Homo sapiens: one gene and its partners. The protein of the gene in region 3 interacts with the protein of the main gene of each other region in a pairwise test. Each region holds a gene or a part of one and is shown on either strand. Other genes may lie near its edges.

What was found.
Region 1: the proteins of TFCP2 (region 3) and ASAP3 interact in binary tests that used the Homo sapiens proteins (3 or more experiments, as listed by UniProt).
Region 2: the proteins of TFCP2 (region 3) and TLK1 interact in binary tests that used the Homo sapiens proteins (3 or more experiments, as listed by UniProt).
Region 4: the proteins of TFCP2 (region 3) and ZCCHC12 interact in binary tests that used the Homo sapiens proteins (3 or more experiments, as listed by UniProt).

What each region holds. Positions count from the first base shown.
Region 1 is NC_000001.11:23,481,173-23,488,390, forward strand, and holds the start of ASAP3 (arf-GAP with SH3 domain, ANK repeat and PH domain-containing protein 3), read right to left. Parts: upstream 3,008-7,218; 5' UTR 2,962-3,007; coding exon 2,833-2,961; intron 1-2,832. UniProt on the Homo sapiens protein: Promotes cell proliferation.
Region 2 is NC_000002.12:171,157,876-171,165,686, forward strand, and holds the start of TLK1 (serine/threonine-protein kinase tousled-like 1), read right to left. Parts: upstream 3,019-7,811; 5' UTR 2,554-3,018; coding exon 2,415-2,553; intron 1-2,414. UniProt on the Homo sapiens protein: Rapidly and transiently inhibited by phosphorylation following the generation of DNA double-stranded breaks during S-phase. This is cell cycle checkpoint and ATM-pathway dependent and appears to regulate processes involved in chromatin assembly.
Region 3 is NC_000012.12:51,163,129-51,170,151, forward strand, and holds part of TFCP2 (alpha-globin transcription factor CP2), read right to left. Parts: intron 1-7,023.
Region 4 is NC_000023.11:118,819,963-118,826,845, reverse strand, and holds the start of ZCCHC12 (zinc finger CCHC domain-containing protein 12), read right to left. Parts: upstream 3,023-6,883; 5' UTR 2,841-3,022; intron 2,508-2,840; 5' UTR 2,456-2,507; intron 2,258-2,455; 5' UTR 2,133-2,257; intron 1,716-2,132; 5' UTR 1,602-1,715; coding exon 393-1,601; 3' UTR 1-392. UniProt on the Homo sapiens protein: Transcriptional coactivator in the bone morphogenetic protein (BMP)-signaling pathway. It positively modulates BMP signaling by interacting with SMAD1 and associating with CBP in the transcription complex.

The DNA of each region.
Region 1 (7,218 bases), on a different chromosome or scaffold from region 3:
CTATCTTAAAAGGGTCCCTCAGCCCTGACATTCTAGTTTCCTGTGATCTGCCCAGGGTCCTTCCCAGCAGGACTGTACAAAAGGGCTGCGAGTCCCAGGACAGGGTCCCTAGTTACTCCCAGGAAACCAGTCAGAACTGGAAGACTTGACTTAAGAATCAGTTGCATTTTGATTCAGTCAAATAGAGCTACAAGCCTGGGGGTGGGTTAGTCAAGCCCAGAACTGGGGGAAAAAATTGCAGCATCAAACTATATGTAAACACAATATAATCGCAAAATATAAATGCAAATGCAAAACCAAACAGGAAACCTCAGGGAAGTCTAATCCAAAGTTCAGACTCTAACTTTTTGGGCCCTGAGATGCTGAAGAGAAAAGCTGTGTTTGGGTGCCGCAAGCCTTTCTGTTGTAACAATGAACCTCTACGTGCACCAAACCAAAAATCTGAAGGCAAAGGAGGATGGGTTTTGTCTTGCCTGAACTGGGGCAAAGCTGAGCCCTGAACAGAGCCTGCTGTGGCCTCCAGACCCATTCTAAGGGTCCCTCCCCCAACACACAGTGCTTACACTTACACAGCCAGGCAAGGCCAGATGTATGGGCATAAATGGGCATTTCTGTCCATGGATAAGGTTCATATTGGAGCCCCTTCTCCTGCTCTAAGATTCTAATGAACAACCTGGGGAGGAGGATGAACCATGAAATCCCTAAGAATGTGGATGGCACTGAGCTATTCTGGGTCATGAAATGTGAGGCTATGAAGACAAATCTCAGGAAGCTCTCCAAAGGATGGGCTGGACAGCAGTGTTTCCCTGTGAGCCCCACAGTAAAATATAACCCACATCCACAGGCAGTGGACTCTGCCCAAGGAAGGAAGCCAAATCTGACCGGCTGCTTCTTATTTTAATAAAACATGTACCCCTACTATGTGCAAAGTAGTAGGCTAGGCTCCGTGAGACAAATGAGACAAGGTGAGGCTCTGTGAGACAAATGAAGACAAAAGAGACCCAATCACTGTCTAAAGAGATCTGCCGATTAATCTGACGATAATCATTCCATTTATCAAGAGGCATGGGCCAGTGCAGCGGCTCACACCTATAATCCTAGTACTTTGAGAGGCCAAGGCGGATAGACTGCCTGAGCTCAGGAGTTCAAGAACAGCCTGACCAACATGGTGAAACCCTGTCTCTACTAAAAATACAAATATTAGCCGGGTGTGGTGGAGCATGCCTGTAATTCCAGCTGCTTGGGAGGCTGAGGAATGAGAATTGCTTGAACCCGGGAGGCAGAGATTGCAGTCAGCTGAGATCGCACCACTGTACTCCAGCCTGGGAGACAGAGCAAGACTCTGTCTCCAAAAAAAAGATGCATGCTTTATATGCATTGTCTCATGTGAGGTACACATTATTACCCCCATTCCACAGATGACAGGACAGGTCACATGCCCACGTTCACCCAAATGGCAAACTGCAGAGCCAGCGTTTGAAAAAAGGTCTGCCTTGGCCGGCGCGGTGGCTCACGCCTGTAATCCCAGCACTTTGGGAGGCCGAGACGGGCGGATCATGAGGTCAGGAGATCGAGACCATCCTGGCTAACACGGTGAAACCCCGTCTCTACTAAAAATACAAAAAAAAAATTAGCCAGGCGTAGTGGCGGGAGCCTGTAGTCCCAGCTACTCGGGAGGCTGAGGCAGGAGAATGGTGTGAACCTGGGAGGCGGAGTTTGCATTGAGCCAAGATCGCGTCACTGCACTCCAGCCTGGGCGACACAGCGAGACTCCGTCTCAAAAAAAAAAAAGGAAAGAAAAAAGGTCTGCCTTCCCCAAAGTCGATGCTCCTTCCACAATCCTCTATCACCCTTACAAAGTGATACAAACAGACTCCGAGATGGAGGGTCACCCTGACAAGAGAGAAGAGGACAGATTTCCTGACACTGGCGCAGGGTGTTATGAACTACTGAGCTTTGTATCTGCCACGCAGTGGGTGCCTAGTACACTTAAGGTGAAGGGTGGAAGGCTAGAGCCGTTGCTGAGGTCCAAAATGCCACCCAAATTGAGGGCATCCTTTGGATGGGGAGCTGCAAAAACACATTATTCTCCGTTGGACCAAGGCCACGGGGTGTCTGTCCTAGAATATTCTTTGCAGAGGAGCTGCGGAAAGCTGCAGCAGGTTCAGAGAAGAGGAATGGAAGGAACTCCGAAGAGCATGGGAATGGGGTGGGGCAGCCTGCAAGACCGAAAGAAAAGGCCTGGGACGCTTTGCTGGGAAAGACAAAGAGGAGAGGGGAGGGGAGAGGAGACGATAAACTTGCCAACAGCCCGGCCAAGGTGAACCCCGGCTCCTGGCGCCTTCCCATCCGCATTCATTCCACAAACGCGGGCCAAATCTCCGAACCAGCCGCAAGCGGGAGGGGGCCTCTCTGCAGCCGGGGGGAAGAAAGTTCAGGACTGAGGCGGGAAGCCTGCCTCTCAGAAGGGGAGTGACTCGGGGGGCACACTTGTGGGGCTCCGAAGATGAAAACGCAAACTGAGGCTGGAAGGCGCTAGGCAAACACATATGTGATGAGGCGGTCACGCGGGGCACTTGGGGTACGTCCCCCGACCTGTGGAGTTTGTCATCGAAGAGACCTCGAGGCCCCCCAAAACGGTCCCTCGGGCCTTCCCCCGCCTCGACGGTGAGGACGCAGCTGTTGGAGATGCGCTCGGTCCTCCCAGACCTAGGGAGGGGGCAGGTTTCGGGGCGCGGTGAAGGGCCATCGCAGCTCGGGTGCGACACGCCTGTGGAGGTCAAGGCCAGGCCCGGCGCCGACCCCCGACCCCTCCCGCCTCGGCCCCCTCACCTCCTCCCGCGCCAGCGCCGCCCCTCGGTACCGGGGCATCTTGGCGGCGAAGGCGGCGGCCCCAGCCGGGGAGCTGAGGTCCTCCGCGGTGACGGCCAGGAACTCGGCGACGCTGAACTGCTCCGGCATGGCGGGCGCGAGCGTGGAGCTGCCGGAGCGGGGCGCGGGGGGCACTGAGCTGCTCCGCGCTGAGCCGGCCTCACCGCCGGCCGGGGGCGCCGTCCCGGCCTCCACACGCCCCGCCCCTCCGCACGCCCCGCCCCCGACCCTCCAGCCGCTCTCCGCTCCTCAGCTGGGACGGCCCCGCCCCCGGCTCCTCGCCTTCCTCCACCGCCAAGGTCCAGGCTCCGGCCCCGGTCCCGGCCCCGCACCGCGTCAGGCCGCTTCCCCGGCCCCTCGCCGGCCCCCTAGGCCACGCCCCCAGCCCCTCACCGCCTCAGACCCCGCCCCCTGGCGCGATGCCCCACCCCTGGCCTCAGTAGAAACTCCTCCGCCTTCCCCCATCCCTGCCCCTTCAGGGCTCTGTCCCGTTTCATCCCGCTCTGGGTCTTCCAAATCCTCCTCCCTTGCACGGCCCAGGCTGTTCCATCTCCGCGTCGAGTCTTAGAGCCCCCTCCCTCTTCCTCCCTCCTCTGCTGATTCGTTCCGAGTTCCCCATGACCTCGCCCCTTCTGCCCTACCACCCCCCCGCCACCCTTCCCTCCTCTCTCCCCAGTCCCGCCCAATCTCCTTGCCTCGCTCCGCCCCGAATCGCCCCACCCCTCCTTTGCTGCGTACGCCCAGCTCTCAGCCTCAGCTTTGCAGGCATCCGGAGACTCCCTCCTGATAACCCCCGCCGCCCCGGGGATGTGTGGATCGGGGCCCCTGGCTAGCTGTGTGACTTGGGGAAAATTACTTCTCTTCTGGAACCTCAGTTTCCTTATCTGTACAATGGGAAGCCTGATGCCCGCTTGATTGTGATGTTGCGAAGAACCGAACACGTGCGTGTACTAGTTCCCTCTTACCCGACCATAGATCGCACCCACGCCTTTACTCTTCCTGCTCCTGCCTTTCACCCCTTAATCTGGCTCACCATCCTTTGGGGCGGATGAGGGATGGGGTTCAGGATAGAAATCCACTTAGGTTTAGTTCTGAAGCCTGAGGTCCTCTGGGGAAAAGTTCTCCAAGTAAAAAGCTAGGAAAGCACCGCAGCAAGGAACATTGGTTTTGGAGTCAGAGGAACCTAGATTCCAATCTTGGTTACTTTGGATAAATTGCTTGCTTCTCTAAGCCTGCATTTCCCCCTCTTAAAATGGCCTCATGGTATTTTACCCCACAGGGCGGCGATTGAGAGAATCTTTTCTTTTCTCGCACAGAAAAGAAAAGAAAAGAAAAAATCCGGAAAGATATGCACTAAAATGTTGCACCAGCAACATTTTATGCACTAGCTGAAGACAGATATGCACTAGCTGAAGACATTATGAGTAACTTTCTTTTCTTTTGGTGAATCTGTATATCCTAACTTTTATACAATGACCATATACTACTGTGTAATAGAATTAAAAGTTGACGGGAGCGATGGCTCATGCCTGTAATCTTAGCACTTTGGGAAGCCGAGGTGAGCGGATTGTTCAGGAGTTCAAGGCCAACCTGAGCAACATGGCGAAACCTTGTCTCTACAAAATATACAAAAATTAGCCCGGCGTGGTGGCTCTTGCCTGTAGTCCCAGCTACTTGGTGGGCTGAGGCAGGAAAATGGCTTAAACCTGGGAGGTCAAGTTTGCAGTGAGCTGAGATCCTGCCATTGCACTCCAGCCTGGGTGACAAAGTGAGACCCTGTCTCAAAAAAAAAAAAAAAGAAAAAGAAAAAGAAAAGAAAGAAAAAAGAATTAAAAGTTGAAAAAAATGTGTACCATCTGATAGAGACGACAACTATTCCAAGAGTTCTTTCAAGGTCAACTTCTCCTGTTGAAACCAAATAGGCACTTTTCTTGTTATTTATTTTTAGAGACAAGGTCTCACTCTGTCGCCCAGGCTGAAGTGCAGTGCAATGATCATAGCTCAAGGCAGCCTCAAACTCCTGAGCTTAGGCACTTTTCTTGCTTGACTTTTAGGAGCATCTGACAATGTTAACCACTCCCTTCTCCTTGAAACACCCTTGCCCCTGAATCCTAGGAGAACTATTTTCTTTGGTGGCCCTCTCCCTCTGGCTGTTCCAAGAGCCCTTTCTGAGATGCACTTCCTCCGCAGGGATCTTAAATGCTGGAGTTGTTGGGAGCTCTCTGCTAAATCCTCTGCATGTCTCACTCTATCAGCCTTCCTGGATTTCTTCATCCAATCCCAACGGTAATGTTGATGTCTTCTGTACTAGTTTCCTGTTGCTACTATAACAAATCACCAATAACTTCCCTCAGCCTCCCGAGTAGCTGGGATTACAGGCACGTGCCACCACACCCAGCTAATTTTTGTATTTTTTAGTAGAGACGGGGTTTCGCCGTGTTGGCCAGGCTGGTCTTGAACTTCTGACCTCAGGTGATCCGCCCACCTCGGCCTCCCAGAGTGCTGGGATTACAGGCATGAGCCACTGCGCCTGGCCACATTTATTCTTTTACATGTCTGGAGGTCACAAGTCTGCAATAACTTTCACTGGGCTAAAATCAAGGTATCAGTGGGGCTGTACTTCCTCTGGATGCTATAAGGGAGCATCTGTTTTCTTGCTTTTGCAGCTTCGAGAGCTGTAGTTTTTGCATTCTTTGGCTTATGGCACCTTCCACCTTCAAGGGCAGCAGCATCTTCAAGCATCTTACTTGCCTTCTTCCCTGTGATCAAATTTCTCCCAGCCTCCCCACCCCTCTTCTTTTTGTTTTTTTTTTGTTTTTTTTGAGACGGAGTTTCACTCTTGTTGCCCAGGCTGAAGTGCAATGGTGCGATCTCAGCTCACCACAACCTCCGCCTCCCGGGTTCCAGCGATTCTCCTGCCTCAGCCTCCAGAGTAGCTGGGATTACAGGCATGCGCCACTATGCCCGGCTAATTTTGTATGTTTAGTAGAGATGGGGTTTCTCAATGTTGGTCCTCGAACTCCTGACCTTAGGAGATCCACCCGCGTCGGCCTCCGAAAGTTCTGGGATTACAGGCATGAGCCACGGCGCCCGGCCCCCTCTTTTTTTTTTTTTTTTTTTTTTTTTTTGAGGCAGGGTCTCATTCTGTCACTCCAAGCAGTGGAGTGATCACAGCTCCCTGAAGTCTCAACCTCCTGGGCTTTTGCGATCCTCCCACCTCAGCCTCCCAAGTAGCTGGGACTGCAGGTGCATGACACCACGCCCAGCTAGTTCAACCTCTCTCTTTTTTTTTTTTTTTTTTTTGAGACGTGATGCCTCTCTGTCGCCCAGGCTGGAGTGCAGTGGTGTGATCTCAGCTCACTGCAACCTCTGCTTCACAGGTTCAAGGGATTTTTGTGCCTCAGCCTCCTGAGTAGCTAGAATTACAGGCCCATGCCACCACACCCAGCTAATTTTTTATTTTTATTTTTTATTTACTTATATTTTTATTTTTTGTATTTTTAGTACAGACAGGGTTTCATCATGTTGGCCAGACTGGTCTCCAACTCCTGACCTCAAGTGGTCCACCCACCTGGACCTCTCAAAGTGCTCAGCCTCCCTCTTATAAGGACATTTGTGATTACATTTAGGGCCTATCCAGATAATCCAGGATAATCTCCCCATCTCAAAATCCTTAATTTAATCACACCTGCAAAATCTCTTTTGCTATATAAGTGCCATTTACAGGTTCCATGGATTAGGACCTGGATATCTTTGGGAGCCATTACTGAGCCAATCACATCTTCCAAGGCTGTATTTCCAGCCTGGACTCTTCTCTAGTTCAAGATCTATGTATCCAGCCACCTATGAGACAGTTTCATTTCACTGGCTCACAGACAGACACCTTAAACTCTACAGGTCCAAAACTGAACTCACCATCTCGTACGCCCACTCCTTGCACCAGATTGTTTTCTGTCCCTGTCTTGATGGAAGGCATTACCATGCACCCCCTCGGAGTCATCCTCTCCTCCCTTCTTCTACCAACCTCCCCTCAAACAAGTCTTGTCACTAGTCTCACCAGTGAGACCACCTTCTCCATCTGCAGGCCAACCCCAGTCCAGACCACTGCCACCTCTCACTTCCTCGCTGGTCTCCCTGCCCCTAATCTTGCATATCTGTTCTGTTGCTCCTCTACTTAGAACTCTTCAGTGCCCCCCGCATTGCTCTCTGAATAAAAGCCAAACTTGTTTTCATGGATGTCTAGCCCTGCATGGTCTTGCTGCTCCTGCCATTCACAGGCTGATCTCTTGCCTCTCTGTCCCCACTGTGATTGAGCCCCTTCACTGTTCTCCCCTCCGTCTGTAATGC
Region 2 (7,811 bases), on a different chromosome or scaffold from region 3:
CTCAATTTTTCAAGAAACAAAGTTAGTTTTCACCGTGATACATACAATACATTCAAGTTCCATTAATATTAACGGTTCTTACTAGCAGTAACTAGCAGTTAAAAAGCTTTCTAAAACTTCATCAATTTATATAATGTACTAACATGTATACCTGGAAAAGGTGCTAAACACTTAAAATAAAAACTGAGATTTCGCTCAATAGAAATCATCTCCATTTTGACACTCAGGGCTTCATATTCCTGTTAGCGTTAGTGAAATCTGAGAACACATCGCCAAGCTTCAAAATGAATATAACCCTAGAGAGGATTAATAGTTTCAACTTGCATGCTGGTTGGTCAAAAAGAAATATCCCCCTGTAGCTATACAGGTACTCGGTGTGAAGTGTAACTTTCACAAAAGCCTGTCCTATGATTTCATGAATTAACAGAAACTCACTACTTTAGGTTACATAAAAACCCACTGTAATCTAAACTGCCGGAAAAAATTATGGTTATTTGGAAGTTCAAGCTAAATGATTCCAACCCCTCCAAATTTTCAAACATCAGGAAAAGTGCAGAATGTTTTTAAGTTGAAGTAACCTCAGAAACTCACAATCTAGATGTTTTGTCTCCCAAATTCCCAATACTGATAACAGATATCAAGAGATAATTCAACACTATGTCCTCAGTATCCAGTTCACGGCCTGGCTCACAGTAATGGCTCAATAAATATTCGAGAAACGAATGAATGAATGAATGAATGAATGATGATATAGCCTTAAACAAGAAACAATAAAATGGTCTTTTTAAACTCATAACACTAACATTAAACATCTTAATGAAACTACAAACAAAAGTAAAAGCATGCTAAAAGCAAGCATCAACTTCTCTATGAAATACATTTTAAACCGTTCATTTAAAAATTTTCAAGTGCAAAAGAATCACCAGATATACTAAATTTCTAGTCATTTAATAAATAAACTTCTATATTCTAACAATGAAAGCTCAGCGTTGGGATAAGATGAAAGGGGGAAACGTCTGTCAATGTATTCCGCATGTTTAATGGATCCCATAAATCAAAGCTTTCCGTGAATTTTCTAGAGCATATTCATGCCAATCTTTAAGCCTATTGTCACTTTCACACATGCTCACAGGAACAAAATGACAAAGAATGCTATGCCTGAACCACTGGATTCAGGGCACAAAACACTTGATTAACACTTGTCAAGGCTCTGACTAGCAAATATCGACAGATATTTTCAAAATAAAGTACTCGCACCGATTCCTACATAAATCGAAGCTCTTGATTTCTTTAAAACATTCACTAGACGGTTGAACTTCCAGACATTTGAAAATGTGCCTATCTCCTCGTGTGCGACAACTAGGAGTGAACAGCCCGTCTACCAATTGCGGATGAATACCGCTAAGCTTTTTCCAGACTAAAGAGCGTTAAAAGACATTCCATGCACATTTATTCATTCCCCATAAATGTGTTTTCTCCCAAATTTCATTTTATGTTGTATACTTAGATACAGCAAGTTGAAATTTTAGTCAAAAGCACGCCGGTGCCTTACAAGCTGTGTAACTGCTACATCTGGTGGCAGCCCACTTGCTTGCAAGAAGCCAGAAAACTTAGAAAACAATTGTAACCGATTTGGTGCGTGTTTGCAATAACCTTTACGCAGATATTTCCCACAAAACCCACGACCCTGTCACAGAAGAACAGTAGCCTACTTGCAGCAGAGAATATAACGCACAAACACGCAGGAAGCAACGGCGAAGGAGAGAAAGTTGCAACCATCTGGAGGGGCGGTTTTAAAAGCCTGCCCACGAGTCAGTCTGTCGTTTAAATTGCTCTAGGGGGCCACACAGGGGATCAAAGTCTGCCCAGATAATTTCAGCGTCTCTCCCCAAAGGAGAAACCCAGCAAGCGAGGGGCATCCTCCAGGTCCCGGGCAGCAAAGCTCGCAAAGTGGGGACCGCCTCTATGGGAGGAGTGCGCGGGAGAAGGGGAGGGGGCTCGAGGACGAAGGCTCCAGCGGGAGGGAAAACCCACCAGAGACCGGAGGCCAGGAGGTTAAGAGTACTGAGTGTACTGGCAAATGGAGCAGAAAGGGGCTCGCGTCTGGGGGGAGGCTTCCCACCCTCGCAGGACTGGCTCCCAGGAACCCCAGGCGAGTCTATGCGCCTCGCCCCGTCCCCACCAGCGCGCACCCCCTCGTCCGTCTCCTCCGCCACCCGCGAACCACCATCCACAGCCAGGGCACTACCTCCCCAGAGCCGGGGAGCCGGGCGGCCTCGCGTCCACCTCGCCACCATCCCCCACCCCAGGGTCTGGCGGAGAAGCCCCGGGGCGGGGGGGGCGGGGGGGGGGCGCGGGGGTCCGCGGCGCGGGAGAGGAGGCCCGCGAGCGGGCGCGGGCGCGGCGGTGCTTACCTTCCCTGGGCCTCCCGGATGGCGGCGTGTGATTCAGCAGGGACCTGGCCGCCGCCGCCGAGCCCGGGGTTGGAGACGTGGAGAGCTGGGACCAAGATGGCGGCCCCTCCAAACTTCCACTGCTACTTTGGACACTCATCAAGCTACTTTCTGGGAACCCGACTCCCCCCCTGCGACGGCAGCGGCGGCAACGGCACCGGCACCCGCCTCCGTCATGGCGGGGGCCGCGCTGAGGGCGAGCGAGAGAGCGAGGGCTGGGAGGGGAGAGTCAAGGGGATGGGGGAGGAAACCGAGAAGAGGGGAGGTGGGGAGGAAAGAGGTGAGGGAAGGAGAGGGGACAGGGAGGAGGGAAAGGGGGAGAAGCGAGGGAGCGAGCGGGCGCGCCAGAGGAGAGGAGGAGGAAAGGAGCGCGGCGGCGGAGGCGTCGAGGGGGTGCCAGCCGGGCCGGGGTCGGAGCGCGGGCGGAGCGCGGGCTGCGCCGGCCGAGGACACTTCCGCGGGCGGAACCTGCCGGCACCTCTGCAGTGCGTCGGCCCCCGGCGTCGCCCGGGAGGCGGCGGCGGCGGGCTGTGGGTGGCGGCTGAGGCGGTGGGGTAACCTCTGCATCAGTTACAGGCGGCGGCGGCGTCACGCGCCGCCTGTGCAAACACTATCGCGAGGCTCCTGCGCCTCCGGTAGCGGCGGCGGCGGCGGCGGCGGCAGCGGCGGCCGCGGGAGCAGGCTTGGGGGAGGGACCTGCCAGGGGCTGGGGGGTGGGGGCATGGGGAAGGAGCGAGCGCGCGAGGGAAGAGACTAGAGCGCCGGGGCGCCCCTGCCGCACCCGCGGATCGCCGCGCGGCGCGGGAGCCCGGGGTTGCCGGACTCGCGTGCGCGGGGGCAGCGTCCCCGCGCCGGCCGGAGGGAGGCGCGCCCCCGCCGCGCCGCTCGGGCTCCAGCGCCGCTGCCACCTGACTCCCCCTGTCTCCCGCGGAAGCGCGCCTCTCTCCTGACCCACACCCAACACGGGGAGAAATGCTGCTGCTCTCGCTCAGCTGCCGCTTCTCGGGAGTTCAATGTGATCGTTTCTCAAAATGGAACTGAAAAGTTGAGAGTTCCTTCTTTCTTGCCCCTCTGTACTGTGCAGAAAAACGTATGTGCGCCTCCCCGTCTGCAGAATGGGAATAATGACCGAATAAAAGAGCTATGAAAATAAACATGGGTAGTGGGAGAGTTGGGAAATAAAACTTTCTCGTGTTTTCTAAAAAAGAGTGAAGAATCTTTAATGAGGAAATTGAAAATTACCAGTTTTGTAGACTGTATGGTATAGCAATTCTTTGTTTTAAAACAGTAAGTGGAAAATCTAAATGAAAAATGTGATTACTGAATCACATATTTAGGAAAACTATACAGCGTTCATCTTGCAGAAGGTATGGTTTCTAGAAACTTATAATTTGTTTCTAGTGTCTCCGCTGAGTCCCGACTACAAAAATCCCAAAATAAATAACAGCATTTGCTAAAATTTATAGATAGAGTGTAGCTTTCTACAGACCCACACAAGTATACTCACACCAGGGATTGGGCTTCTTGTACATAAAAGAGCACTCTAGTTCAGGAAAAGTACAACAAGGTTATTTCTCTCTTTAGAAAACCAAATTGAATAGAGCACTAAAAAGATTATGATATAGCGCTACTGCACAGACAAGAGGAAATGGCATGATTACCAGGGGGACAAAAATGTCGTTTCTATTTTTTATTTTTATGACTTCGCATTTCTCATAGTAATGTTTTGTTCAGATAAACTATCATACTAGAAAAGAACCTTGATTGTCAGTTATCTCCAGAAGTAATTGTAGTTGCCTTGTGCTTTAGATACTTCAGTGAGTTTTTAGTCTTGTCTGCTTTTCAAACTTAAGAGGGACATCTCACAAACAACTTTATTGAGGTATAATTGACAAAATAAACTGCACATATTTAAAGTGTACAATTATTGGCCAGGTGCGGTGGCTCACGCCTGTAACCCCAGCACTTTGGGAGGCCGAGGTGGGCGGATCACGAGGTCAGGAGTTTGAGACCAGCCTGGCCAACATGGTGAAACCCCATCTCTACTTAAAATACAAAAATTAGCCGGGTGTAGCGGCACGCGCCTGAAGTCCCAGCTACTCGGGAGGCTGAGGCAGGAGAATCGCTTGAACCCGGGAGGCAGAAGTTGCGGTAAGCCTAGATCGCAACGTTGCACTCCAGCCTGGGCGACAGAGCGAGACTCCTAGACTCTGTCTCAAAAAAATAAAAATAAAGTGTACAATTTGATAAGTTTTGATGTGTATACCTCCCTGAAACCACTTCTACAAGGAAGATGGTGAATGTATCTATCACCCTCCAAAGTTTCCTCTTTGTGGTTCCTCCTCCACACTACTTCCATTCTCTCCAACCACAGATCTTTCTGTCATATGGGTAGCTTTCCATTTCATAGAATTTTAGATAAATGCAGGCCATACAGTCAATTTGTACTCTTGTCTGGCTTTGGTTTTGTTTTTTGTTTTTTGTTTTTGAGACAGAGTCTTACTCTGTTTTGCCCAGGCTGGAGTGCCATCTCGGCTCACTGCAGCCTCCGCCTCCCGGGTTCAAATGATTCTCCTGCCTCAACCTCCTGAGTAGCTGGAATTACAGGCACGTGCCACTACATCCAGCTAACTTTGTATTTTTAGTAGAGATGGGGTTTCACCATGTTGGCCAGGCTGGTCTCAATCTCCTGACCTCAGGTGATCCGCCCACCTTGGCCTCCCAAAGTGCTGGGATTACAGGCCTGAGCCACCGTGCCAGGCCTTGTCTGGCTTCTTTCACTCGACATTATTTTTTTGAGAGATTCGTCCACATTGTTGCATTATCAATAGTTTGTTTTTATTTTTAAGTAGTATTACACTGAATGAGTGTACCACACTTGTTTATCCATTAAACTATTGATGGACATTTGCATTGTTTTCACTTTTTGGCTGTTACGAATAATGCTGCTAAGAACATTCATGTACAAGTCTTTCTGTGGACATAGGCTTTCCTTTCCCTTGGATACATACCCAGGATCTTGCCATTCGATTTTTATACCTAAATACATGCACTATAAGAGGAACAGAGTTTCTGTAATGACATGTTGATAAATGTATGCTCTTTCTGTATTTTTAAGAGTAAGCTTAGTCAGCAGATTGCGGTGAAAAGAACATGGGACAGGAAGGAAGTTAAGAGACCTGAGTATTAGTCTCAGCAGGTAACTTGATTCAATTTCCTCATCTACGAGAAAGAGGTTAGAGTCACTGAGTGATTTTTAAAGCTCCTACCAATTCTGAGACTGTACAGAGCTCAGTTCCTCTCAAAAATGGTAAACAAAGCCCAACCAAAAAGGTTTGATGATGGTAGGTTATCTTTCTCCCAACCTTCTCCAGAGCTTCAAGTTTTTAAGTTATCCTTATGCCAATTCATAGTACTTTTTTTTTTTTTAATTGTCACCCAGGCTGGAGTGCAGTGGTGCAATCTTGGCTCACTGCAACCTCTGCTTCCCAGATTCAAGGAAGTCTCATGCCTCAGCCTCCTGAGTAGCTGGGACTGCAGATGCCTATCACAATGCCCGGCTAATTTTTTGTATTTTAGTAGAGATGGGGTTTCACCATGTTGCCCAGGGTGGTCTCAAACTCCTGAGCTCAGGCAGTACACCTGCCTTGGCCTCTTAAAGTGCTAGGGTTACAGGCATGAGCCACCACGTCCACCCTAACTCATGTTATATTTAATGCAGATTGGCTATGTTTATTTTTAATGATAACTAGAGGATTACAGCATATACATGATCAACTTACTTTAGTTATATTTTTGTTGTGGATACTTCCTTAGAAGGACAATTAAATGTTTGATTCCTGTCTTCATGTGGTTTTTGATAAGACAGCACTCACCAACCTTTAAAAAAAAGGCTTTTACTGGCAATGGGGAGTTATTTAAACAAACTGCAGCTTAGCCTGAAAATGGAATGTCATGCCATTATTTAAAATCATGTCTTCAAAGAATACCAGAGAAGATAACATTTTCACACTATAGTAAGTGAAAAAATGGATATGATCTGGATTTATTCCTAAGTATGCATCAAAAACACTGGAAGTACTCAGGAGGCCAAGGTGGGAGGATCACTTGAACACAAGAGTTCAAGACTAGCCTGGGCGACATGATGAGACCCCATCTCTTAAAAAGAAAAAAAACTGGAAGGATGTGCCCCAAAAAGTTAATAATAACTAGCCTTGGGCTGTGAGATCACATAGTTATTATTTCTTTATGTATGCTTTTCCAAATTTTGTAAAACAAATCATGTATTTCTTTTTATATTCAGAAAAAGTTCAATAAATACGTTTTAAGTAATTGAAGTAATTGAAGCATAAAGAAGGCCTCTGGACATAAGTTGTGCAAATACATAATTTTATAAAATGATTATGTCAAATAAATGAAAACTTTTAAATGGCAAGGAGAAGCTCCTCCACACCTTGAAATTTGCTAGTATATGGGCATTCAAAAAATGTCCGATAAAAAAATAGATCAAGACTGGGCACGGTGCCTCACGCCTGTAATCCCAGCACTTTGGGAGGTTAAGGCAGGAGGATCACTTGAGCCTAGGAGTTCTAGACTAGCCTGGGCAACAGAGTGAGACCCCACCTCTATCTAAAAAAAAGAAAAAGATTAGATGGCTAGAGTGATAGATTACACAATAGGAAAAAATATAGAAAAGTCAGAAGAGTTCAGATTCAGACAGAAAGAGACACGTGCCACTCTGTAGGGAAGAAGAAATCTCAAGAGCAAGAAGAGATCATTGGAAGCTTTCTGGCAATCTTCCATGGAGGAATATTCCCAGAGGGAAAGCCAGCTTGAGAACACAGAAATGAACTGAGCAAGTAAAAGGTAGTAAACCTGCCTAGAAAGAATCAGGAAGAGACTAGAGAGAACGTTCTGAGTGCTCCATGAGGACAGGGCCTTAAGCCTCTAGTACAGACCAAGGGCTCTGTCAATGTTGTGGAATTAATGAATGATGACGATCAATGAGCTGGGTTTCAGGTGATAGGGCAATGCAGGAGAAGTCTTCAAGGGTCTCCTGATGGAAGGTCAGATGCAAAAGGTGAAGGTCTGAGCCCCGATCTATAGGATGATCATAATTTATAACTATGTTTAATAGACTATTTTCTATTTCTATACCATAGTAAAAATATTTACAAAGCATCCAATATTATAGACATACTAAAATGCATTTTATACTCTTAACTTCTAAATTCAAGGGAAAAAATTAATGTCTGAGCCACCTAAGCCCCTTTCCCCCAAACCAACAAGAAATTAGCCCAGAGGCTGGGGGCTGTGGCTCACGCCTGTAATCCCAGCATTTTGGGAGGCCGAGGCGGG
Region 3 (7,023 bases):
GTCTCTTCAAAAAATACAAAAATTAGCTAGGCATGGTGGCACGAGCCTATGGTCCCAGCTACTTGGGAGACTGAGGTGGGAGGATTGCCTGAATCTGGAAAGTGAAAGCTGTGATGGTGCCACTGCACCCCAGCCTGGGCAACAGAGCAAGACCCTGTCTTAAAAAATAATAGTAATAAGGCCGGGCGCGGTGGCTCACGCCTATAATCCCAGCACTTTGGGAGGCCAAGGCGGACAGATCACCTGAAGTTGGGAGTTCAAGACCAGCCTGACCAATGTGGCAAAACCCTGTCTCTACTAAAAATACAAAAATTAGCTGGGTGTGGTGGTGTATGTCTGTAATCCCAGCTACTTGGGAGGCTGAGGCAGGAGAATCGCTTGAACTTGGGAGGCAGAGGTTGCAGTGAGCCAAGATCACGCCACTGTACTCCAGCCCAGGCAACAGAGCGAGACTCTGTCTCAAAAAATAAATAAATAAATAATAATAACAATAATAAAATATTAGAAAGAAGGCAGGGTATGGTGGCTCATGCCTTTAATCCCAACACTTTGGGAAGCTGAGGTGGGAGAATCGCTTGAGCCCATGAGCTCAAGACAAGCCTGGGCACCATAGTGAAACCCCCATCTCTACAAAAAATAAAAATAAAAACAGAGATAAAAAAAAGAAAGACCTTAAGTCAATACTCTAACTTCAGACCTTAAGGAACTAGAAAAAGAAGCACAAACTGGACCCAACCAAAGGGAGGGAATAACAATGTTTAGAGCAGAGATAAGTGAAATAAAGAATAAAAATAAGGCAGGTGCAGTACCTCACACCTGTAATCCCAGCGCTTTGGGAGGCTGAGGCAGGAGGATCGCTTGAGGCCAGGAGTTCAAGGCCTGGGCAAGACAGTGAGACCCCATCTCTATGAAATTAAAAAAAAAATTAGCTGGGTTTGGTGATGCATGCCTGTAGTCTCAGTTACTCAGGAGGCTGAGGTAGGAGGATCACTTGAGCCCAGCAGTTTGAGGTTGCAGTGCATATGATCACACCACTGCATCATTCCAGCCTGGGTAACAGAGCACGGCCCCATTTCTCAAAAACAAACAAACAACAACAACCACAAAAACCAAGAAGAATAAAAATAGTAGAATCAACGAAACCAAAAATTTGTTATTTAAAAAGATCAACAGAATTTACAAACTCTTGGCCGGGTATGGTGGCTCACGCCTGTAATCCCAGCACTTTGGGAGGCCGAGGCGGGCAGATCACAAGGTCAGGAGTTCAAGACCAGCCTGGTCAACATGGTAAAACCCTGTCTCTACTAAAAATACAAAAATTAGCTGGGCACGGTGGCAGGCACCTGTAATCCCAGCTACTGGAGAGGCTGAGGCAGGAGAATTGCTTGAACCTGGGAGGTGGAGGTTGCAGTGAGCTGAGATCATGCCACTGCACTCCAGCCTGGGTGACACAGCAAGACTCCATCTCGAAAAAAAAAAAAAAAAAGTAATTAACAAACTCTTGTCAGACTGACTGGGAGAAAAAGAAAGAAGATGAAATGAAAATAAATAAAATCAGAAATGAAGCTGGGGATATTACTACTAATTTTATATAAATGAAAGGATTATAAGAGAATACTGTGAATGACTAAACCAGCATATTAGATAATTTAGATAAAAGAGACAAATTTTTAGAAACATTAAAGTACCAAAACTGACTCAGAAAAAATTAAAAGTCTCAACAAACCTATAATAAGAGATTGAATTGATAAACAAAAACCTCCCAACAAAGAAAAGTCCAGTATCACATGGCTGCATTGGCAAATTCTACCAAATATTCAAAGAATTAACACCAATCCTACTCGAACTCCTTCAAAAAACAGAAAAGAATGGAACACTTCCTAACGTTCTATGAGGCCAACATCACCCTGACACCAAAGCCAGAAAAAGATACGATAAAATTCAGGCTGGGCATGGTGGCTCACACCTGTAATCCTAGCACTTTGGGAGGCTGAGGCAGGAAGATCCCTTGAGTCCAGGAGTTCAAGACCAGCCTGGGCAACATAGGGAGACTTGGTCTCTTAAAAAAAAGACATGATAAGAAAACTATAAACCAATATCCCATATGAATATAGAAATAAAAATCCTCAAGAAAATAACAGCAAACTGCAAACTGGATCCAACAGTACATTAAAAAGATTATATACCATGACCAACATTTATCCCAGGAATGCAAGAGTGGTTCAACATAAGGAAATCAATCAATGTGATACACCACATTATCATCTCAACAGACACAGAAAAGATATTTGAAAAAATTCAATACCCTTTTAAGATTAAAAAAAAAAACACTCAGCAAAAGTTCAAAGACATTATGCTAAGTGAATAAGTCAGTCACAAAAGGACAAATATATGATCCCACGTATATGAGGTTTTTAGAGTAGTCAAATTCATAGACACAGAAAGTAGAATGGTGGTTGCCAGAGGCTGGAGTGGGGGGAGATGGGAAGTTAGTGTTTAATAGGTACAGCATTTCACTTTGGGATGAAAAAGTTCTGAAGACAGATCATGGTGACAGTTGTACAACAACGTAAATGTACTTAATTACACTGATCTGGACATTTTTAAAGGGTTAAAATGATAGAATTTTATGTTATGTGTATTTTACCACAATAAACACACACATACACACATATTCAGCAAACTAGGAATAGAAGGAAACTTATTTAACACTAAAACGGCATTTATGAAAAACTCTGAGTAGGGCATGGTGGCACATGCCTGTAGTCCCAGCTACTCAGGAGGCTGAGGCAGGACTGCTTGATCCCCGGGAGTTCGAAGCTGCAGTGAGCCATGAACATGCCACTGCACTCCAGCCTGGGCAACAGAGTGAGACCCCATCTCAAACAAACAAACAAAGAAGTTGGCCAGGCATGGTGGCTCACATCTGTAATCCCAGCACTTTGGGAGGCCAAGGCAGGTGGATCACCTGAGGTCAGGAGTTTGAGACCAGCCTGGCTAACATGGTGAAACCCCGTCTCTACTAAAAATACAAAAATTAGCTGGGTGTGGTGGTATGTGCCTGTAATCCCAGCTACTTGGGAGGCTGAGGCAGGAGAATCGCTTGAAGCTGGGAGGCAGTTGCAGTGAGCTGAGACCATGCCATTGCACTCCAGCCTGGGCAACAAGATCGAAAACTCCATCTCAAAAAATAATAATAATAATAAATAATAAATAAATAAAAGTTAACATCTGTGAACAGCCTGGGCAACATAGCATGACCCTGCCTCAAAAGAAAAAAAAAGGAAAGAAAAAAAAGATGACATCTCTGACTGTGGGTCACTATATTAACAGATGCTTAAAGTTGTTTTTCAGGAATTAGGGGACAGCTCTTACCCAGTTGAGACCACCAATCCCTCAACTGGACCTGCATGAGTGCCCAAAAAGTGACCTTTTCATGTCAGAGGGACAAAAACTCCACACTTAGATCATGTTAACACTGCCATTTTCTGCACATGGCCTATGAAGAGCAATGTAGCTCAATTACGCTTGTGCAGAAACCTTGATTACCTCACCTTTCCTACCTGCCAATCACCTTTCCCCATGCTTTAGACCACCCTGCGTCCTACCCCACAAATACTGCCAAGCCCTATTTTCAGGGTGCCAGATTTGGGATTTGCTCTCCTGTCTCCTCATTCAGCAGCCCTATGAATAAAATCTTGTCTCTTTTGCAAAACCCATCATCATAGTGATTGGCTTGCTGCACGTGGGCAGGACGAACCTAGTTTGATATCATAACCATCATCACAAACAATTTTAGAACATTTTTAACACCCTGAAAAGAAACTCCATTCCCACTAGTAGTCCCTCTCCATTCCCTCCTCCTCCATAGTTCTAGTCAACCACTAATTTATTTTCTCTACAGATCTGCCCATTCTAGAAATGTCATAGAAATGGAATCATATGTATGTGGTCTTTTGTGACTGGCTCCTTCACTTATCATGTATTCACAATGAATCTCCTTTTCCTTTTAGTATAAAGTTTGTGCCACAATAAAAATATAAGAAAAAAAGAATAATAAAAGGACCACTAATAAGGATTAAATAAATCTAATTAAGATGACTCTTTATAAAATACAAATTAATAGATTTGAAGATGAAACCATCATAAGATGCAACAGAAAATAAACTAGGGTAAAACAAATGTGTCAGAGAAGATATTTTATAAAACAAATTGCTTGTCAAAGAGAGTATTTTCCCTAATAAAGATGTAGAACGTCAGACTGATTGACATTTTTTTTTTTTGAGACAGTCTCGCTTTTGTCCCCTAGGCTGGAGTGCAGTGGCTCGATCTTGGCTCACTGCAACCTCCGCCTCCCAGGTTTAAGTCATTCTCTTGCCTCAGCCTCCCGAGTAGCTGAGATTACAGGTGTGCACCATCATGCCCAGCTAATTTTTGTATTTTCAGTAGAGACAGGGTTTTACCATGTTGGCCAGGCTGGTCTTGAACTCCTGACCTCAAGGTGATCTGCCTGCCTCAGCCTCCCAAAGTGCTGGGATTACAGGTGTGCACCACCATGCCTGGCCTGATTGACTCTTAGAACCAGTTGGCAAAGATTATTGCTGGAGGGTGGCACACTAAGATCCAAGGTCTTATTAAAAGGAGAAATAGGCCTGGGAACCGCGGCTGACATGTGTAATTACAGCAATTTGGGAGGCCAAGGTGGGAGGATCTCTTAAGGTCGGGAGTTAGAGATCAGCCTGAGCAACACAGCAAGATCTAGTCTCTACAAAAAGTAGAAAAACTGGCCAGGTGTGGTGGTGTGACCCTGTAGTCCTAGCCAGTCAGGAGGCTGCAGCAGGAAGATCACTTGAGCCCAGGAGTTTGAGGCTGCAATGAGCTACAATCACGCCACTGCACTCTAGCTTGGGTGACAAGAGTGAGATGTCGCCTCCAAAAACATAAATAATAAGACAAAATTAAAATTAAAAAAAAATAAAAATCAGGGCTGGGCACAGTGGCTCACACCTATAATCCCGGCACTTTGGGAGGCCAAGGGGGAAGAACTGTTTGAGCCCAGGAGTTCCAGAACAGCCTGGTCAACATAGGGAGACCCTGTCTCTGCAAAACATTTAAAAATCAGCCAGACATGGTATCTCATGACTGTACCCCCAGGTGCACTCCAGCCTAGGGGACAGCTACTTGGGAGGACTGCTTGAGCTCAGGAATTCGAGGCAGCAGTGAGCTGTGATTGAGCCACTACACTCCAGCCTTGGCGACAAAGCAAGACCTCAACTCTAATGAATAAATAATCAGATTTCTAGTCTGTGCCCCAATCACTGGAGATGGGACCCTGTAAACTGGTGTTTTGTTTTGGTTTGGTTTTTGTTTTTTTGAGACAGGGTCTCACCCTGTCACCCAAGCTGGAGTGCAGAGGCACAATCACAGCTCACTGCAGCCTTGACCTCCTGGGCTCAAACGATCCTCCCATCTCAGCCTCTGGAGTAGCTGGGACTAGGGGCAGGCACCACCATACTCAGCTAATTTTTTTATTTTTAGTAGAGAGAGGGTCTCCCTATGTTGCCCAGGCTGATGAAAACTCTTGAGCTCAAGCAGTCCTCCCACCTTGGCCTCCCAAAGTGCTGGGATTACAGGCACGAGCCACCATGCCTATCCCCAACTGTATTTTTATTTTTATTTCATTTTTTTTTTGAGATGCAGTCTGGCTCTGTTGCCCAGGCTGTAGTGCAGTGGCACAGTCTCAGCTCATTGCAACTTCCGCCTCCCGGGTTCATGCAAGTCTCCTGCCTCAGCCTCCCAAGTAGCTGGGATTACAGGCATGCACCACCACGCCCAACTAATTTTTGTATTGTTGGTAGAGACAGGGTTTCACCACGTTGGCCAGGCTGGTCTCAAACTCCTGACCTCAGGGGATCCACCCACCTCAGTCTCCCAAAGTGTTTGGATTACAGGCGTGAGCCACCACACCTGGTCCCCAAGTGTATTTTTAATAAGCTGTCCAGGTGACTCTTATGAATACTAAAATTTGAAGACCAATATCTAATTAACACAAATTAATAGAATAGATTAAATGTGTATAAGTCAAGAGAGCTGGGTGCAGTGGCTCACGCCTGTAATCCCCCAGCACTTTGGGAGGCTGAGACGGGTGGATCACCTGAGGTCAGGAGTTCAAGACCAGCCTGGCCAATATGGTGAAACCCCATCTCTACTAAAATTACAAAAATTAGCCGGGCATGATGGCGTGCGCCTGTAGTGCCAGCTACTCGGGAGGCTGAGGCAGGAGAATCGCTTGAACCCGGGAGACAGAGGTTGCAGTGAGCTAAGATCACACCACTGAATTCCAGCCTGGGCAACAGAGCGAGACTCCATCTCAAAAAGAAAAAAAAAAAGTCAAGAGAATAGTGACAAGTACCTAACACATGAAAAAAAGGATGAAAAAAACAAAAAAGCCAGGCGTAGTGTTATATGCCTATAGTCTCAGCTACTCGGAAGGCTGAAGTGAGAGGATCACTTGAGCCCGGGAGATGGAAGTTCTACTGAGCCGAGATGGTGCCACTGCACCCCAGCCTGAGTGACAGAACAGGACCCGTCTCAAAAAGAAAAGAAAAGAAGAAAGTACTTAAAATGTTGGCACACTATACTCTCAAGAACTCAAAGTGATGTTTGAAACTTGTGCATTTGATTTTGATGTTGAAAAAACTAAATGTGTAAATATGCAAGCCATTCTAATGTCTGTGAAAAACACAGAGTATGATTTGTAAAGAACTCTTAATTAAATGTAAGATGGCATAGTATCAAGAGCATATGGTATTGCACCTAGTAGATTAACAAATGTTTGCTGGTGATGTTAACTATTTTTATAATGAGTACAGTTATATTTAATTATTTCCAGCCTAACCTCTGGTAACCTAAACAAAATCAAACTTTTTGCTGTGAATATCTTTACACAAGTAACAGCATAAAAAATTGTCAAATATTATGTCAGACGCTCATGTGTAAGTTCAGGGTCAGGGCACTTACTTT
Region 4 (6,883 bases), on a different chromosome or scaffold from region 3:
GGTATAGGGAAATATCACTCATCAAAGGGTTGACAATGATTATATAAGGGTGGAGAGATTTGGGTAATTTGTACTTCACTTTTTGTACCTTTTTTATTGTTCAAATATTTAACAATAAATTATACCACTTTCACAAAGAATAAAGCTGTCAAGGAAATGGGCACACACAGAAAACAGACCCGTAGGCTGCAGGGAGAAGGAGCAAGGACAGAGGTCAGGCTATCTCCCTCCAATGTGCTGGTATCCAAGACCCTTTCTACTCCACCCCAAAAGATAGCCGCTTTGTGGATTAATTCATGCAGTTAGAAGTCCCACCCCCACCCCCACCCCAGTTTTCCCACTACTGGATGCTGAATATAGGTAAGGGTTCACTGAAACCTGGGGGTGGTCCCTTACAGTGGCTCAGAGAAGTCATTGTATTCGCCAGGGGCCACTCTTGACCTCTCCATCTCAGTATGGGTCAGCTCCTGGAGAGTGATGATCAAATTCTCAAAAACCTGGGCCTTGTCACTCTCGTTGTCACAGGTTTCTTTTGAGTGGCCTTCCTCACCACAATACGAACAGCGGATTGTGTGTTTTCGCTTCCTGGCTCTACGCATCTCCCCAGGACCGTTATTCTTATAGCCAGAACCACCACTGGTGGAAGGAAACTGAGCCCTGGAATTGTGGGGGGAATCAATGACCAGCACTTCATCCTGAGGTCTGGCCCTGTCTCTGAGGGGAGGGGCACCCCAGGATGGAAGTGGAGGGTCCTGAGACTCCACCAGGATCACATCCTCATCGGAGTCGTCGAGGGTATCATCTATCTCTATCACATTGCAGTCAGCACTGCCGATCACTATCGGTGGGGAGCCCTGAAATGCCACAGGGCTGACTGCCCTCTCCACCATTGACTCAGACCTTTTTGGACGCTTCCGTTTAATAAAAGCATCATCCCAATCCTCTTCCTCCCTTACCATTCTGATTAACTCCAGAAAGTTGGGAAGCCGCTCCTGCTCATTTGCATACATCCTGAGAAAATCCTTAAGTCTGAGTCGGAGGTCCCTACTCAGCTCACCGCCTAAAAGGAGCTGCTGCAAGCGAGTCCGGTTTGCATCTTTCTCAGCTATAATGCCTGCCTGAATAGCGTTCTGGAGCTGCACCTCTAAACGGATCACATAAAGGGAGGCTTTCTCCCCTTGAGCTTGTAGGGTGTTAAAAAATTTACCATGGGCAGTCACACTGCTTTCAGACTCCCCAAACACCAATTTCATGGCTCGCAAGAAATCTGCCACACTTAGGTTAGGGTTGGTCGCCTGAAGCACACGCATGACCTCGCGGGCAGGGCCCCTAAGGGTTTTCATCAAGCGCTTGAGCTTTTCCTCCTCAGACATATTCCAATCTGGCAGGACGCCATTGACTTGGGTCAGCCAGTTTTCAAAGGTTTCTTCCCCTTGGGCTGGCACCACCCTCCCCGAGAACAACTTCATGTTTCTGTCTGCCATGCTGGCCATTATAGGACCGAGACTTCTCCCCAGGGACCTCAGCATGGAATGGGCCCAAGGCGGCAAGGGTGCATTCAGCCGCCGGCTGTTACCGACACGTGCAATGATGCTAGCCATGACTGACGACGATAGGGTATCTGAATATAAGAAGATGCCTAGGCTTTTTAGAAAAGCTTAATCTGCAGGTGGGAGAGGAGAGGAGGTGGCTCTGCCTTCCTATCTCAGCAGGGGCTGTAAAAAAGAAAGGGGGGCTGGTTAATAAGGGAGCGGGCTGCAGCTGCATTCTCTTCCTACCTGAATATCCTGCAGTACATTTTATATTTGCCCACTACCCTAAAAATAATCCTGTAGGAGATTGACACTTACAACCTCCCAGAGCTACCCGATGCCTGCGTGCTAGCAAGGTGCTTTTTGCAGCCACATCCATCCCTCCCACCAGTCCTCCAAGAGGGACGGTAACTGTTGCTTCAAATTCTAGGTGTAGCAGTGTCTGGAGCTGATATTGGGCTCTCCAAATAGAGTACAATGATCGCAGATTTGTGGAAATAAAATAAGATCTCATTAACCTCATGGTCTCTGGTCTCAACCACACCCCCTTCTCAAAGTGCCCCCCACGCCCGTCCCCCTTGTTATTTCTCAGATTCTTACACGAACTCTGAAACAAGAGCGCGTCTTTATTTCACTTCCAGCCTCTGCAACCAGTGCCCTCCGTGAGAAAGCTCCTCTCCGGGGTACGGTCAACCTCTGTCCACAGGGGGTCGCAGATCCGGGTCCTTGAGGTTTCAAGATTGCGCCACAGCGGAGAAGGCCAGAGAAGGGAAGGGTTAGAAGCAGCTTCACCCGTCATCCTGCTACCCACCACCTCCGCTGTTGCCAGGCGAAAAATTCTCTCTGCCCCCTCCTGACTATAAGCCAGAGACCAGCCCCCCACCCTCCAGCATTACATTTCCCCCGGGAAGCCGTCGGCCTACCAGCTCTGCAATCAGCTGCACAGAATTCAAGTTCAGATGCGGCTTTGATGGCCTGCCACGGAGAAAGGGAATAGGAGTTGGACACACCCACCCACATATTCCTCCCAGAAAGAGATGAGGAGATGCAAAGGATGTTCGAAGCAAACAGCTCGAGATTCCTCCCCCCGCTACTCCTCGCCTCTCCTCCCACCCCCAAATCCAGGCAAATCCTACCTAGCCCGCAGTATCCAGGTGAACCCCACCTCCTCCCTCAGCGCAGCCGGGCCACGAGAGTACTCCTACCCCTGCCTCACAGTCACCGATTCTCCAAGCTGGGAGCCGCCCAGTACTGGTGGGTCTTCCCCCACCCCTCTCCCCGCCGGGCAATCACACCCCCATTCTTTACCTGTGCTCCGCTGGTGGACAGCAGATGCTCCCGCGTCGCCAGCTGTGGATTCCGCCTTCTGGTCTCCGCCTTGCAGGCGGCAAAGAACTGAAGCCTCCTTGGCCGCTAAGCGACCCGGGGCTGCCCGAAGGAGCTGCTTCGCAGGGCCGCCCAACCAGGGGTAGCAGAGACGAGGCAGCGCCGTTCCTAAGGCAGCCGCGGCGGCTTTTATCCTCTGCCAGCTGAGACAAAAGAGCGTGACGAGCGGGCTAGTGCGGCCAATCAGCGAAGTGCGGGGGCGGACGCCCCGCACAGCCTTGGGCAGAGGCGAGTTTTCGCCTGAGGGGGCGGGGGCGCAGCAGGCCCGCGGAGCGTCAAGTGCAGCTTGATTAGACCGATGGAGCCAATCTGCCTGGGAATTTGCGACTCTTTCTTCCTCCCCCAACCCGTCCCTTCTCCCTGGGCTCAACTCTGCATCTTAGGCCAGGTGCATTAAACACGAAGTGGGTCCAAAATCAAGTGAATAATAAAAGTTCTTCACCTTGGTATAGGGAAAAGACGGGGAAGAGGGGAAGGGGCGGGAAGAGCATTAGCACGTGCATTGCGGAAACAGGCTTTCACACACATCTCCTCTTTTACTGTGAAAGAAGTAGCAGTATGTCCATTTAACAGAGAGGAGAGCTGGAGAACAAGGCTCTCAACCAATACCCATTCAAGTATGGGGGCAAGACATCAGAGTCATTTGGGGGAGCTTGTTAGAAATGCAGTCTTCTGGCCGGGAATGGTGGCTCACGCCTGAAATCCCAGCACTTTGGGAGGCCGAGGCGGGCGGCTCACGAGGTCAAGAGATCGAGACCATCCTGGCCAACATGTTGAAACCCCGTCTCTACTAAAAAGACAAAAAAAAAAAAAAAAATCAGCTGGGCATGATGGCGCGTGCCTGTAATCCCAGCTACTTGGGAGGCTGAGGCTAGAGAATCTCTCCAACCTGGGAGGCGGAGGTTGCAGTGAACCAAGATCGCACCGCTGCACTTCAGCCTGGCAAGGGAACAAGACTCCCTCTCAAAAAAAAAAAAAAAAAAAAAAAAAAAAAAAAAAAAAGGAAAAGAAAAGAAATGTAGGCTCTGGGCCCCAACTCTGGTGGATTCAGATTTACTAGGACTAGCGGTTGTGATGTGGTTTTGTATTTAGTATTTTTAACCGGCGCTGCGGTTGGTTCTGAGTTGTAGCAAGGTTTGTGAATAAGTAAATGAGCCTGTCTCCAATATCTGTCCACAGGTATCTGTGGTGAAATGCAACTCCAGAGCAGATGTGCCTACCTGGAATCCATGATCTTCCTGAAATTGTATGCAAAGATTTCGGACTCTGTATGAAGCTAAATAATGGCCACCCAAATGTATCAAGTCCTAATCCCTGAAACCTGTAAATGTTACCTTATAAAGTAAAATGGTCTTTGCAGGTGTGATTAAGTTAAGGCTTTTTGACTTAATTTTCCAGGCAGGCTGAAATCTAAACCACAAGTGCCCTTATAAAAGAGGGAGAGTTGGTGCACCAAGAAGAGAAGGCAATGACCAGAGATTAGTGATGTGGCCATAAGCAGAGGAATGCTAGCAGCCACCAGAAACTGGAAGAGGCAAGGAATAAAGCACAGTCCTACTGACACCTTGAATTCAGCCCAGAGAAACAGATGTTAAGCTTCTGGCTTCTAGAACTGTGAGAAATTAAACTTCTCTTGTTTTAAGCCAAGTTTGTGATAATTTGTTACAGTGCTGTTTTAGTCTGTTTGGGGTGCTATGGCAAAATACCATAGACTGGGTGGTTTATAAACAACAGAAATGTATTGCTCATAGTTCTGAAGGTTGGGAAGTCCAACTTCAAGGTGCCAGCAAGGTTGGTTTCTCCTGAGGCTTCTCTCCTTGGCTTGCACATGGCTGCCCTCTTGCTTGGCCATCCTCTCTGTGCATATGTGCCTCTGGGTTCTCTCAGTGTGTCCAAATTTCCTCTTCTTATAAGGACACAAGTCAGATTGGGGCCCACCCTAAGGGCCTCATTTTTACCTTAATAACCTCTTTAAAGGCCCTATCTTTAAATACAGTCACACTCTAAGGTACTGAGGGTTAGGATTACAATGAATTTGGGGGAACATAATTCAGCCTGCAGCACTCCATTTTCCCTTACTTCTGGTTCTGGGAAAGCAAGCCTTCCTTCTCTCATGTAAAGTGTGGTTAAGAGACTCCTGTGGGAACTTTGGGGGGTCAAGACCAAGTGCACTTGGACTGCCCAAGTGCAAAGGAGTTGCTTGTTCTTGACTCCTGATGTTTGGAAGTGAGTGAACAGTCTGATGCTTTTCAGCTGCTGTTAATTTCAGCTTCAGCCTGCCAAGGTACTTTACCTGCTTCTTTCTGCCTTCTTATTTCCAACTCCAATACCTAGAATTCCTTGGAGTAAACAATCTACATTTAAAGACAAAGCACCTTCATCTCAGGGGCATGACCTTTCTCTTGTGGATGGAACACTGGAATGGTGGTGGTGGTGGGTGGAGGATTTTGGAGGTGCAGAGAAGGCAGGTTGCTTACTTCACACAGTCGGGGGTGATGCTGGCAATAGCTTAGGGGTTTTCTTCAGACTCTTGCTTCTGCTCCCCAATACTATGACATCTGACCCTGGCCTCTAAGCAGAATCGTGTTCTACATTTAAATTGGCTTCATCGCCAAATCAGGTGTTCTGCAGTTGGACCTGGTGGCATCAGAAAGGACAAAGACTGTGTCTCAGAGCTGTGCAAAAAATTTTGATTGTGTAAAGTTGCCTGGGTTGCATCATCAGAACCAAGCGGAGGTCTCTTCATATAGGGCTTGGAGGAGCATTTGCTAAACTGGCTCCAGTTGGATACAGAGCATACCTTATCTCTGGCCTCATATTATAGGAGAGGGGTTGGGGGTAAGGGGGCTTCCAATTACAAGAATTCTAGCTCTGGTGGTTCTAAGGAGGCCACATTTCATTTTCCAATTGCAAAACAAAACAAAACAAAAACACACACACAAAAAACCCTTAAAATCCTTAAGATTCAGAGCCAATGCCTTCAGTTGAAAGAATAACTCCCTTTAGTTGCCTTCAACCTCTGTGCCAGGAATTTTCCATCCTTATCTCATGTAAGTGTCTCATCAAACCTATTCAGATAGGCATTGTTATTTCACCAAGGTTTCTGAGAGCATATGGTCACTTCAAACTCGGGCTTCGGCTCAGGGATATCAAAGACTGGATGGGGGTGCTTATGGGAGATGCTGCACATATTAACCTGGCATTCTAAGGGCAGCATCACTCAAAAAAGTTTTCAAAAAGAGGATAAAATAGTTATTTTTAGACAAACAAAACAGAGAGTTTGTAACCAGCAAACCAAGCTAATGGAAATTCTGAAGTATGTACTTCAGGAGGAACATGACCTTAAAAGAAATAAATACAGGAAGGAATGAAGAGCAAAGGAAGTGGTAGTACGTGGGCAATGTAAGAGAACATTGGCAGAAGAAGAAATCAGAAAAACATCTATTCTTCTTTTTAAAAAATAAACTTAATGTATCATACAATCAGAAAAAACGTCAGGAGGGGCTTAAATGGATTTCAACTTTTCTAAGGGCCTGGTATCGTATTGGAAGTTATTTAGGTATTTATTAAATTTATATTCTGATAAGGTAATTATATATCTAGTAATTAATAGTATGTGACTATTAAAATAATAGTAACAGGATGTAAATTTCCAAGCTATCAATAGTAGGGAGGGGAAAAAGTTGAATAATCAACACAAAATTTTCAATTTTTTTTAAATCAAGAAAGAAATATAAATGGGACAAATAAAAGCACAAAATAAAATTAAGCTTTAAACCCAAATATATGAATAATTTTATTAAATGTTTATGATCCACAACATCAAAAACCCCAAGTAATCCCATTTAAAAGTGGGCAAAGGATCTGAATAGACATTTCTCAAAGACATACAAATGGCCAAGAAATATATGAAAAAAATGCTCAACTAATCATCAGGGAAATGCAAATCTAAACCACAGTGACCC